Linked DNA regions of Homo sapiens. The protein of the gene in region 2 purifies or fractionates together with the protein of the main gene of each other region. This does not show direct contact. Each region holds a gene or a part of one and is shown on either strand. Other genes may lie near its edges. The genes, in order: CERT1, PTPN9 and QTRT2.

Region 1 (2,835 bases), on a different chromosome or scaffold from region 2:
GATCTTTTAAGTCCCAACCCTTCATTCCTTAACACTATCCATCAGACATAATCAGACAGCAAATAAGAAAGCATCTATAACCTTTCTACAATGTTCTTAGTTCCCGAAATTACCTGCAAAAATTAGTATAGCACCACTTAAGGTTATTTAGGGCAGATTATTCACAAATCTGTACTATAATGAAATAGTAACTTACTCAGGTACAACTGTTTCTTTGAACATACTAGCAGTTATGGCCCTGTATAAAGAAGGTATGACTTTTGATGAGAGAGGTTGCAATGATTACTCCAGGTGCAAAGCAGGTGAAGTAAGGACCCAAAGCAAGCAATGAAAAGACCTATCCAAAGTGAAACAAATATATGTAACTAGCAACTAATAAGGACTAGGGAAACGCTGACTCAGAAAACAAAAAGCCTGACAATGAATGTCAAAGAGAAATAAATATGTAACTAGCAACTAATAAGGACTAGGGGAACATTGATTCAGAAAGCTAAAAAGGCTGACAATGAGTAAAAGAACTCTTAATTTCCTTCCCCACTGTTGCTTATATTCCTAATAATAAATCTGTTCTATGAGGCAAATATCTAAGAAAATGGTGCTTAATATGAAGGCTAGGTCGAGCGCAGTGGCTCACGCCTGTAATCCCAGCACTTTGGGAGGCCGAGGTGGGTGGATCACGAGGTCAGGAGTTCAAGACCAGCCTGGCCAAGATGGTGAAACCCCGTCTCTACTAAAAATACAAAAAACTAGCCAGGCGTGGTTGTGGGCACCTGTAATCCCAGCTACAGAGGCAGAGAATCGCTTGAACCCAGGAGGCGGAGGCTGCAGTGAGCTGAGACTGCACCACTGCACTCCAGCCTGGGCAACAGAACGAGACTCCATCTCAAAAAAAAAAAAAAAAAAAAAAGAAGGGTATATACAGTGACCTAGGGATAAAGTTTTAAAATTTTCCTATCCAGCTCTAGCTTCAGAAATACTCATATAGTAGTAGTTCCAGGGTGAAATTCAGACATCTGTACTTTCAAAGATTCTCTAGTAATTCTGATATACCTTTCTCCAAATTAAAAATTAGTAATCTAATGGATAAGAACTAAAAAGGCATTTGTCCAAATTGTTGTCATATAGGTCATGATCAAGAACAGCCACATTATCAAAGAGCAAAAACAATAAAATACATACCATTAGCTACATATGTAATCTTGCATAGAATGTTGTCCCTGCTAATTTCCTGGTTTCCCTCTGGTGGGCTTACCAAGGTTTGACAAATCATAGCAACATTTATTTTGGCACGGACACATCGGTTGTTTAGCTGCCAAAACAAAAAACAAAGCATCAGTAGATACCCAGTATTTTGTAAACTCTGCTGGTCTAATATTATATTAGGTTAACCAAAATCGTAACTCTTAAAAGTATCTCCAGTGAAATCTTATAAGCACCAAGCTGATATGACACCAGGATTCCTCCCCACCCACTTTTTCTGGGGACAAGGTCTTGCTCTGTTGCCCACTCTGGAGTGCAGTGGTGCCATCATAGTTCACTGCAGCTTCAAACTCCTGGGCTCAAAGCAATCCTCCCGCCTCAACCTCCAGAGTAGCTGGGACCACAGGTGCACATCACCAGGCCTGGCTAATTAAAAAAAAAAAAAAAATTTTTTTTAATAGAGATGGGGTCTAACCATGTTGCCCAGGATCCCTTCCTCTTAAGTAGTAAATGGAGCTAAATTGTGGTAAACCACAGAGGTTTGGCTGGCAGTTGATAACGGCTTAAGAGATAACTGTGGGAAGTAGCCTACTGCCCAGTGTATGTACTGCCCTTTTGGCTGTTTCACGAAACATTAGAAGGAAAGGTAAACGGCCCTGGTGGAATGTTCATAGGCATGACTGTTGCCCTCAGACAACACATGGGCTATACTGTTCCTAGCAGTCAATCCAACATAAAATCTAAGAACCATTATCAAATCAAGTATAGTGTATGGGCTGTGTTTATCATTTTTGTCCCGCATTGTGTATTTAGCTTTATATTGTTTAATTATACACATTTATATACATGTACTTACAGGAGCACTGTCATGATCCACAGAAAAATTACAAACTATCCAAGTTTCAGGGTCATTTTCAGTCAAGGCTGGTATCTTTCGAATGACAGAAAGATATAATACGTCTCGCTGAGAAGCAGGCCACACCCTCTGTGGAGAAGTAAAAATCTTTTGAAAAACAGATCTAACATGGAACTAACAAGAGAAACGTAATGCCAATAAATGTCTTAATTGAAGGTAAAATCTCTCAAATTTTAAATGGAAAGCATCTGAGGATATCTACCAAATGATTAATTATGAACAGAGTTAATAGCTTTGCAGAACAATATAATAAAAGGAATAATGTTCTATTTTTTTAATTGCAGTAAAATATATACACGTATAATTTGTCATTTTAACTAACTTTTAGGGTACAATTCAGGGACATTAATTACATTCACAGTGTTATGTAACCATATTGCTATCTCTGAAATTTATCATCATCCCAAACAGAAACTCTGTACCCAGTAAGCAACAACTTTCCATTCCTCTCTCCTCATACTCCATGATTATGTTCTACTTAGATTCAAAGATTTAATGAAAAAAGACTTATTTGAATCAAATCACATTAGAAAGAATTCTAAGTCACTTAGATTAAATATTTCAATATTAAGGTATGCAAGGGGAAACATATACTATGGGAATGACATGGAGCCTAGGTCTTCAATAAATGGGACTACCTACTTTAAATGAGAAAAAAAACCTTTTATCCTATTTAAGTTACTTTTATTTTGGTTATCTCGTATATGTATCTGGACTAG
Region 2 (3,658 bases):
AAAAAAAGCTGGGTTCCTGCTTGAGCCCAGTTGTTGAGACTGCAGTGAGCCATGATCATGCCACTCCCCTCTAACCTAGGCAACAGAGTGAGACTCTGTCTCTGAAAGTAAAAAAAATGAAAAGTGGGGAGTGCTAGTGGGAGCCAACTCAACCCAAGTAAAGGCCTAATAGCTCCTCTATGGGTGTTTGCACTGTCTAACAAAGAACTGGACCCTGACAGTCAGAGGACCCATGGTAGGATCATCTAGTGTAGCCCCTTCTTTTACAGAGGGAACCTAGGACTTGGGTTTGGTTCAGTGGTAAGACCTCAAAACCACAAAAGAGCTGGGTCACTCTAGAGAAGCTTTTCTACTTGGCCAATGCCTCTTGGCCCAATTCCCTCTAGGTCTCTGATTTATAAAAGTTTTTGTATGTGTGTCTGTCTGTCCCAAGAGACAGGAAGCATTCCTTTCAGGGAAGGAACCAAATTTCCCTAGGGCTATGATGCTAAATAGTCCATTCTCCCAAGAACAAGTCCTACTCTGTCATTTACCTGCATACTGTCACATGAAGACTGATAAGGGTGGGCCTCCGAGGCTGAGGATGCTGGGGCACCCTTCGTCTCAGGAGTCCCATCCTAGCCAATGAGGATGGGCAAGATGAAGGGAGCAATGGGAAAAAGGACACAGGGATTATCTCATGTTTGAAAAATTATATAGCATGGGAATGTTAGAGAAAGGTGAAACAAACAGCCATCAAATCAGAAGCAGAAGCCTGCTTTAGCTCAGTGTTTTCTTCTTTCCTGAACACTGTCTTTCTTTTTTATTTATTTATTTTTTTTGAGATGGAGTTTTACTCTTGTTGCCCAGGCTAGAGTGCAATGGCGCGATCTCGGCTCATTGCAACCTCTGCCTCCCAGATTCAAGTGATTCTCCCATTTCAGCCTCCCGAGTAGCTGGGATTACAAGCACATACCACCACACCCGGGTAATTTTTATATTTTTAGTAGAGATGGGGTTTCATCATATTGGTCAGGCTGGTCTCAAACTCCTGACCTCAGGTGATCTGCCCACCTCGGCCTTCCAAAGTACTGGGATTACAGGCATAAAGCCACTGCACTTGGACCCTGAGCATTTTCTCTTGCTTTGTTCACTAAGTCTCCTGTATGAGAACCCTGACTTGCCAAACAGATTCTGGGTTGCGTCTCTGCCTTCCCTTTCCTTTACCTCCTCCTTTAACACCTAACACAGGTAGGTTCACGCTGGTAAAAGCTACAAACAATGGCAGTGGGAGGAGTTCCTCTGAGTTTTACTGAAAATTTAGGAGACATCAATTTGTTAACTCTCTATAGGGTCAGAAACATGAACTAAATCTATGGTTCCCAAACCTGGATAATCCTGTCACTCACTAACAACCTACTGGATGGGCCCAGAAATCAGCATTTTATGGAGCTGAAGTGATAGATAACCTCACCAGTCTTCAGATATGCAATGAGGAACTCATGCATAACCTTAAATTCACAGGGCAGTCGGGTTACAGCCTCTTCAAATAAATGACAATTTAAAGTTACCTCCTCCAGGCCGTTTATCATTAATCCCATTTCTTACATGTTCCACCAAACCCCTGACCTCTCTGGTTTCTCAGATTTCCAAGAATCTCTGTTCACTTCTTATGTTTGTGCACTCCCAAGAGAATGGAGGCTCATCTGGAGAAGGAACTAGATTAATCTTCTGCTCTACACTTGAGCTCCTGATTATGGTAAGAAACTCGATAAAAATTTATTGGCAGATCAGAAGATGGATCCTTAGAGGAAGTCTAGTGTAAGAGGTGAAAGAAGATACTTTGGAGTCAGATGGTCTGGGATCCTGGCTGTAGCAAATTAACATTCCTGTCTCTCAATTTTTTTCTTCTGTCAATACCTACCTCAAAAGGTTGTTGAGGGTGAATGAGATGATACCTAGAAATTACTCTGAACAGTGCCTGGAATAGAGTGAGCATCCAGTAAATTGGCTGCTATGACTATTATTAAGAACACCCCAATATTTCCCAGCCACAACTGCCCCAACTGGGCAGGCCATCAACAGCCAACAGGTATGATATGGGGAGTGGTCTTCCATGTACAAAGCTTCTGGTTCCTTTCTTTCTAAGAGATAAATGCAAATGACTCAAGATCTTCTCACAAAGACCATGTACCCATAGATATGGAGTCTCCTGGGGAGAATGATAACCCCTTTGGTACGCTGCAGACATGAGGACCCTACATCAGGAGGTCCTAGCTAGGACAGTCAGTCACCAACCCTGTCACCCTTCGCGTCTACTACATGAAGCATGGGCACAAGAACAACAACCTGGAATTTAAGAACTTTTTTTACTCTGAAAGGAGAGCTAAACAAACCTCTGTTCTCCAAACACAAGATCTCCATCTTCCATGCAGTGAAGAGACCACAGGCTTTGTAAGCAGACCAACTTGAGCTCGTTTTAGAGCAAATCACTGTAACCCTCTGGACCTCACCTTCCTCATCTATATAGAAATGAGAAAGGGGTGCACAGGAGAAGGGAGAGAAGATAATATCTCACTGAATTGTTGTGAGGTTTGAATGAGGCAGGGTGGGGGAAAAGCACCTAGCATAGTGCTTAGCACATCTCAAGCACTGAACTGGTGCTGGTCCCTCTGTCCAGAGATAGGGCCATGGCCTACAGACAAGGTGAACTCATAGTGTCAGAACTCAAAGTCTCAGATACTGAAGGCTTGGGTCCCTCCCTGCCTCCCTCATCCCTCCCAGACCAGCTCCTGGACCCCCTCCCTCATGTCCCAGGCTGCTAAATTGATGAAGCTAAAAGGGTTTTGATCATGTCGGTATATTTATATGTAAATACAAAACTGTATCACTGTAAGATATTGAATATGAACATTACAATTATTTTCTGAATCAGACTCAGTCCATTGATATTAAATACAAAATGAAATGATTGTAAAAAATAATAATATACACATTCAAAGAGCTTATTACAGTATAAAATTATTGAGGTCTGATCAGCTGCCAACCTCATCTTCTGTCACAGGGGAAGGTTTAGGAGTTCCTGGGATTTTTTGGGAATGTGGAGTGCTGAGGACTCTTGATTTATCCCTAGCACATAAGGATGAGTGGGCTGGGAGCAGGCAGGGACAGGTTGGGTGGGTAGGGGACAAACAGTGATTGCAGGGGACCACCTCACTCAGCCAGGGGGTGAAGCTTTTTATTGACACAGAACCCACCCAGTTTGAGGGTCTAGCAGGCTAGCAGGCAGGAAGAGATGGGCATCTCGGTAGACAGGGCCAAGCTGCATAAAGGAACCATCCAGCAAAAGAAAAAGGGCCCCAGCTCATCCTCCCAGGGAGGTATTTTCTTAGTGGTTTTTTCTTTCTCATACCTGGGCTCCCCCTCCTTCCTTCTAAGATTCGTACCGATTGCATTTGGCTCTGGCTGCTCAGTGAGTTCATCTCTACCCTCCGCCTCCCATCCCTGGGATAGTGAAAGCAAAGAGAGAGTATGGAATCACAGTGGAGGTCTGTTCCCCAAATTGGCCAAGTAAATGTAGAAAAATCATCGGATAAGGGAAATCCATGCTGAGCTAACCCAGTGTCACCACAAACTAATACATTCTTGGCTCCAACAGGTGGCAACTGGAAGGAGATAA
Region 3 (3,658 bases), on a different chromosome or scaffold from region 2:
CTAACCCTTGCTGTTCCTGAATATACCACAGACTTTGATCACACTGTTCCTTTTGACTGACAGTTCCGTATTTCTTTTTCTTTTTTTTATTGATACATATTTGTATAATGTTATGGGGTACATGTGAGACATCTTACATATAGGGCAAGTGTAATAATCATGTCAGAGTATTTAAGTATCCATCACCTCAAGTATTTATTATTTCTAGGTGCTGGAACTTCTACTTCTTTGCCTGGCAAAATACTACGTGTCCATTGAGACACTGAGTTCACATATTAATCTGATCTCCAAACCTCCTGGACATAATCGATCACTCACTCCTCTATGCTCTTACATCAATTTGTATTTATTTCTTTATAGAAATGATAGCACTTATTACACCATTCTTTATTTGTCTGACTAGAGTATCCCAATTCATGTATGTATCCCAAAAGCACAGTCTAGGGCCCTATACATTTTTAATATCTAGTGTTTACTAGACTGAGTTAGATATAGAATTAAAGACTTAAATCTCCTAGTTCAAGAGAGTATATATTAGTAATATTCTATCTTTGAGCTAAAAGCAAAACTACCATTCAACCCAGCAATCCCGTTACTGGGCATATACCCAGAGCAATATAAATCATTCCGCCATAAGGACACATGCATGCAAATGTACATTGCAGCACTATTCACAATAGCAAAGACATGCAATCAACCTAAATGTCCATCAATGATAGATTGGATAAAGAAAATGTGGTACATATATACCATGGGATATTATACAGCCATAAAAAAGAATGAGGTCACGTCTTTTGCAGGAACATAGATGGAACTGGAGGCCATTGTCCCTAGCAAACAAATGCAGGAACAGAAAATCAAATACCACATGTTCTCACTTATAAGTGGGGGCTAAATGATGAGAACACATGGACACAAAGAAGGGAACAACAGACACTGGGGTCTACTTGTGAGTGAAGGGTGAAAGGAGGGAGAGAAGGATAAAAGGTAACTATTGGGTACTAGGCTTAATACCTCAGTGATGAAATAATCTGTACAACAAACCCCCATGACACAAATTTACCTATGTAACAATGTTTACACGTACCCCCGAAACAAAAATAAAAGTTAAAAAAAGGGAAAAAAAAATTCTATCTTTGGTTACCCTACAGATCCCTCTTCTCAGATCAACAAGGACATAGATGGCAGGCCAACATATAGTCGTTTTATTTTATACTAAGGCATCAGAATTACTGGTTAAATGATTCCTCTCTCCCTTACAATTTGGGTAGAAAATGGAAGTCAAAGTATTTTTTTTTTTTTTTGAGACAGAGTCTCGCTCTATCACCCAGGCTAGAATGCAATGCACTGGTGCGACTTTGGCTCACTGCCACCTCTGCCTCCCAGGTTCAAGTGATTCTCTTGCCTCCACCTCCCAAGTAGCTGGGATTATAGGCGTGTGCCACCACACCTGGCTAATTTTTGTATCTGTAGTAGAGATGGGGTTTTGCCATGTTGGACAGGCTGATCTCGAACTCCTGAGGCTCAAGCCATCTACCCACCTTGGCCTACCAAAGTGCTGGGATTACATGCATGAGCCACCATACCCAGCCAAAGTATTTTCTCTAGAATTCAAACTACAAAATAAATAGAAACTTAAAACAGGAGAATGAGTAAAAACAGTGTTCTGAGGGGCACAATTAATAAATATTGCTGACATTAATAAAGTGAGTGCAGGAAAAGTATTTGCGTTTGTAAAGTAGCAGTACACACTGAAGCTTTGCCAGAATGCTGTCCTCAGGGATAATGCCAATGGGGCCACCTCTCAGCCTAACACTTTTAATGAGGTGCTTTTGATACTGTTCTTCACTAGACAAAATCTCTGGCTGTAGACCCAGCAGACAATATTATATTGAGATTCTACTATATATAGTTATACATGTGATAATACTCATCAGCAACTTTCCCCACTCTTCCTGAAGTTGTTAAAAATCCAACAAAGCATGGCGCCGAAAGACTATCGTTTTCCCCTATCATAGCAATTTCTTTTTTTGGCATGTATTTGACCCTCCTCTACCCTCAAATTTTTTTGCAACAATGAAAATGCTGAGGATACAGTGTTCTTCATCTTAACCTCATCCTTAGGCAGCCCTACTCTAAGTCTTATAAACCATCCCATCCCACTATAATTATCGAAATAAGGAAAAGGTATAAGGGATCATCCCAGACAGTGGGATCTGAGCATCTGAGGGATACACCATAGGCTGACTTCCTGGGACAAAGCTGCAGCCTTGGAGACCCTTCTGAAAACACACCTTGTTTGTTACATAACCAGCCGGGCAGGGGCTGACTGGATCGTGCAGGGAGCAGTACAAGAGTGATTCTGGCATGCCTGTATAAACACAAAAAAGAACCCTTGAAAGTGCTTACATCAACAATGACACTGTATTATAGCAGGGAGCAGCTTCGCAATGTGTACTGCTGAATAAAGCAACTCTAAACACTGTCAATAGGTTGTATCTGAACTTGGAATTAGAGAAGGCCTATCAATATGTATAAAAAGATTACTAATCTAAAGAAAGAAATATAAAGCTTCACGTCTAATAAATAGGTACTGAGCTGCTACAAAGGAAAGATGTATCTTAAAGCACAATATACAATGAAAGTATTTAGTGACATGTTGATCTCATTTGACTTTACTTAAAGAATTTACTATCAAATATGCTTATTCCAGGTACCATCCAAGGGGAACTAGCTACCGCAAAGATAAAATGATATGCCCACAAAGTGATCTCACTAATAATAAATCTCAATAATATCATGGGTCCCTAGGGGCAGAATTTTAGAGAAGCTATAGGATGCTGCAAATGGATCCCATTCTTAGTAAGTTTCATTGATTCACGATGACAGTTTCTTAAGTTCTTCAGTCAAAAAGACAATCATTTTTTAAAAAATGCAAAAAAAGTTTAGTAAACCATGTGCCTAAATATCATATGCTAGCCCACATTTTCGTTAAGGAAAATAAAACAGGATTCCAGTGAAAAAAAAGCAAGTGTAAAACCTCTGCAGTTTTTTCACTTTATTTTCCATAATTTCAATTATTACAATTATCTCTAGAAAGCCTACATTAGCTATTTTCATTTAATTATATGCTTGTATACTTTAAAGCTGGTTATTAAAATTGGGCTCAGGTCAAGGAGAATGATATTCCATAAATTCCTCTACTAAAATACAGGGCTTTGTGATAACCAACAGGACATCATGCAGCTGCTCTCAGAAGCAGAAGACTGAATAACCAATGGAAACAGGATTTTCATTCAAGTGAGTCCTAGATACCAGAAAAAGCGTTAGGAGAAAGCGGTGTATAGAAGAACTGATGTTCTAGCTGTCACTGCTAAGCTTTTCCTATAAATAAATAGATGCATACATCTGCATATAAAATCCTATTTCTGGAATAAAGGATAATATTAACATATCAGAATACAGCCATATACAAACGCTTCATCCTCCCCTGCATGTTTGAGGTTCAAGCATGATGAGACTACTTTGGAGCTCACGAATGCCCCATGCAAGTTCTCACCGCTGAGTCAGATACTCAGTGCCTGCAGCATCTGCCCCACACCTGTCTGGGCTCCCACTCCTAACCTGGGTAACTTTTACTCTTCCTTGACCCAGCTAA

Evidence for each region.
Region 1: the proteins of PTPN9 (region 2) and CERT1 purify together in Homo sapiens (affinity purification with mass spectrometry; one large-scale study listed by BioGRID and IntAct). This does not show direct contact.
Region 3: the proteins of PTPN9 (region 2) and QTRT2 purify together in Homo sapiens (affinity purification with mass spectrometry, with the first as the bait; one large-scale study listed by BioGRID). This does not show direct contact.

Annotation. Positions count from the first base shown.
Region 1 is NC_000005.10:75,379,893-75,382,727, forward strand, and holds part of CERT1 (ceramide transfer protein), read right to left. Parts: intron 2,186-2,835; coding exon 2,057-2,185; intron 1,310-2,056; coding exon 1,180-1,309; intron 1-1,179. UniProt on the Homo sapiens protein: Shelters ceramides and diacylglycerol lipids inside its START domain and mediates the intracellular trafficking of ceramides and diacylglycerol lipids in a non-vesicular manner.
Region 2 is NC_000015.10:75,464,300-75,467,957, forward strand, and holds part of PTPN9 (tyrosine-protein phosphatase non-receptor type 9), read right to left. Parts: 3' UTR 1-3,658. UniProt on the Homo sapiens protein: Protein-tyrosine phosphatase that could participate in the transfer of hydrophobic ligands or in functions of the Golgi apparatus.
Region 3 is NC_000003.12:114,066,700-114,070,357, reverse strand, and holds part of QTRT2 (queuine tRNA-ribosyltransferase accessory subunit 2), read right to left. Parts: intron 2,372-3,658; coding exon 2,295-2,371; intron 1-2,294. UniProt on the Homo sapiens protein: Non-catalytic subunit of the queuine tRNA-ribosyltransferase (TGT) that catalyzes the base-exchange of a guanine (G) residue with queuine (Q) at position 34 (anticodon wobble position) in tRNAs with GU(N) anticodons (tRNA-Asp, -Asn, -His and -Tyr), resulting in the hypermodified nucleoside queuosine (7-(((4,5-cis-dihydroxy-2-cyclopenten-1-yl)amino)methyl)-7-deazaguanosine).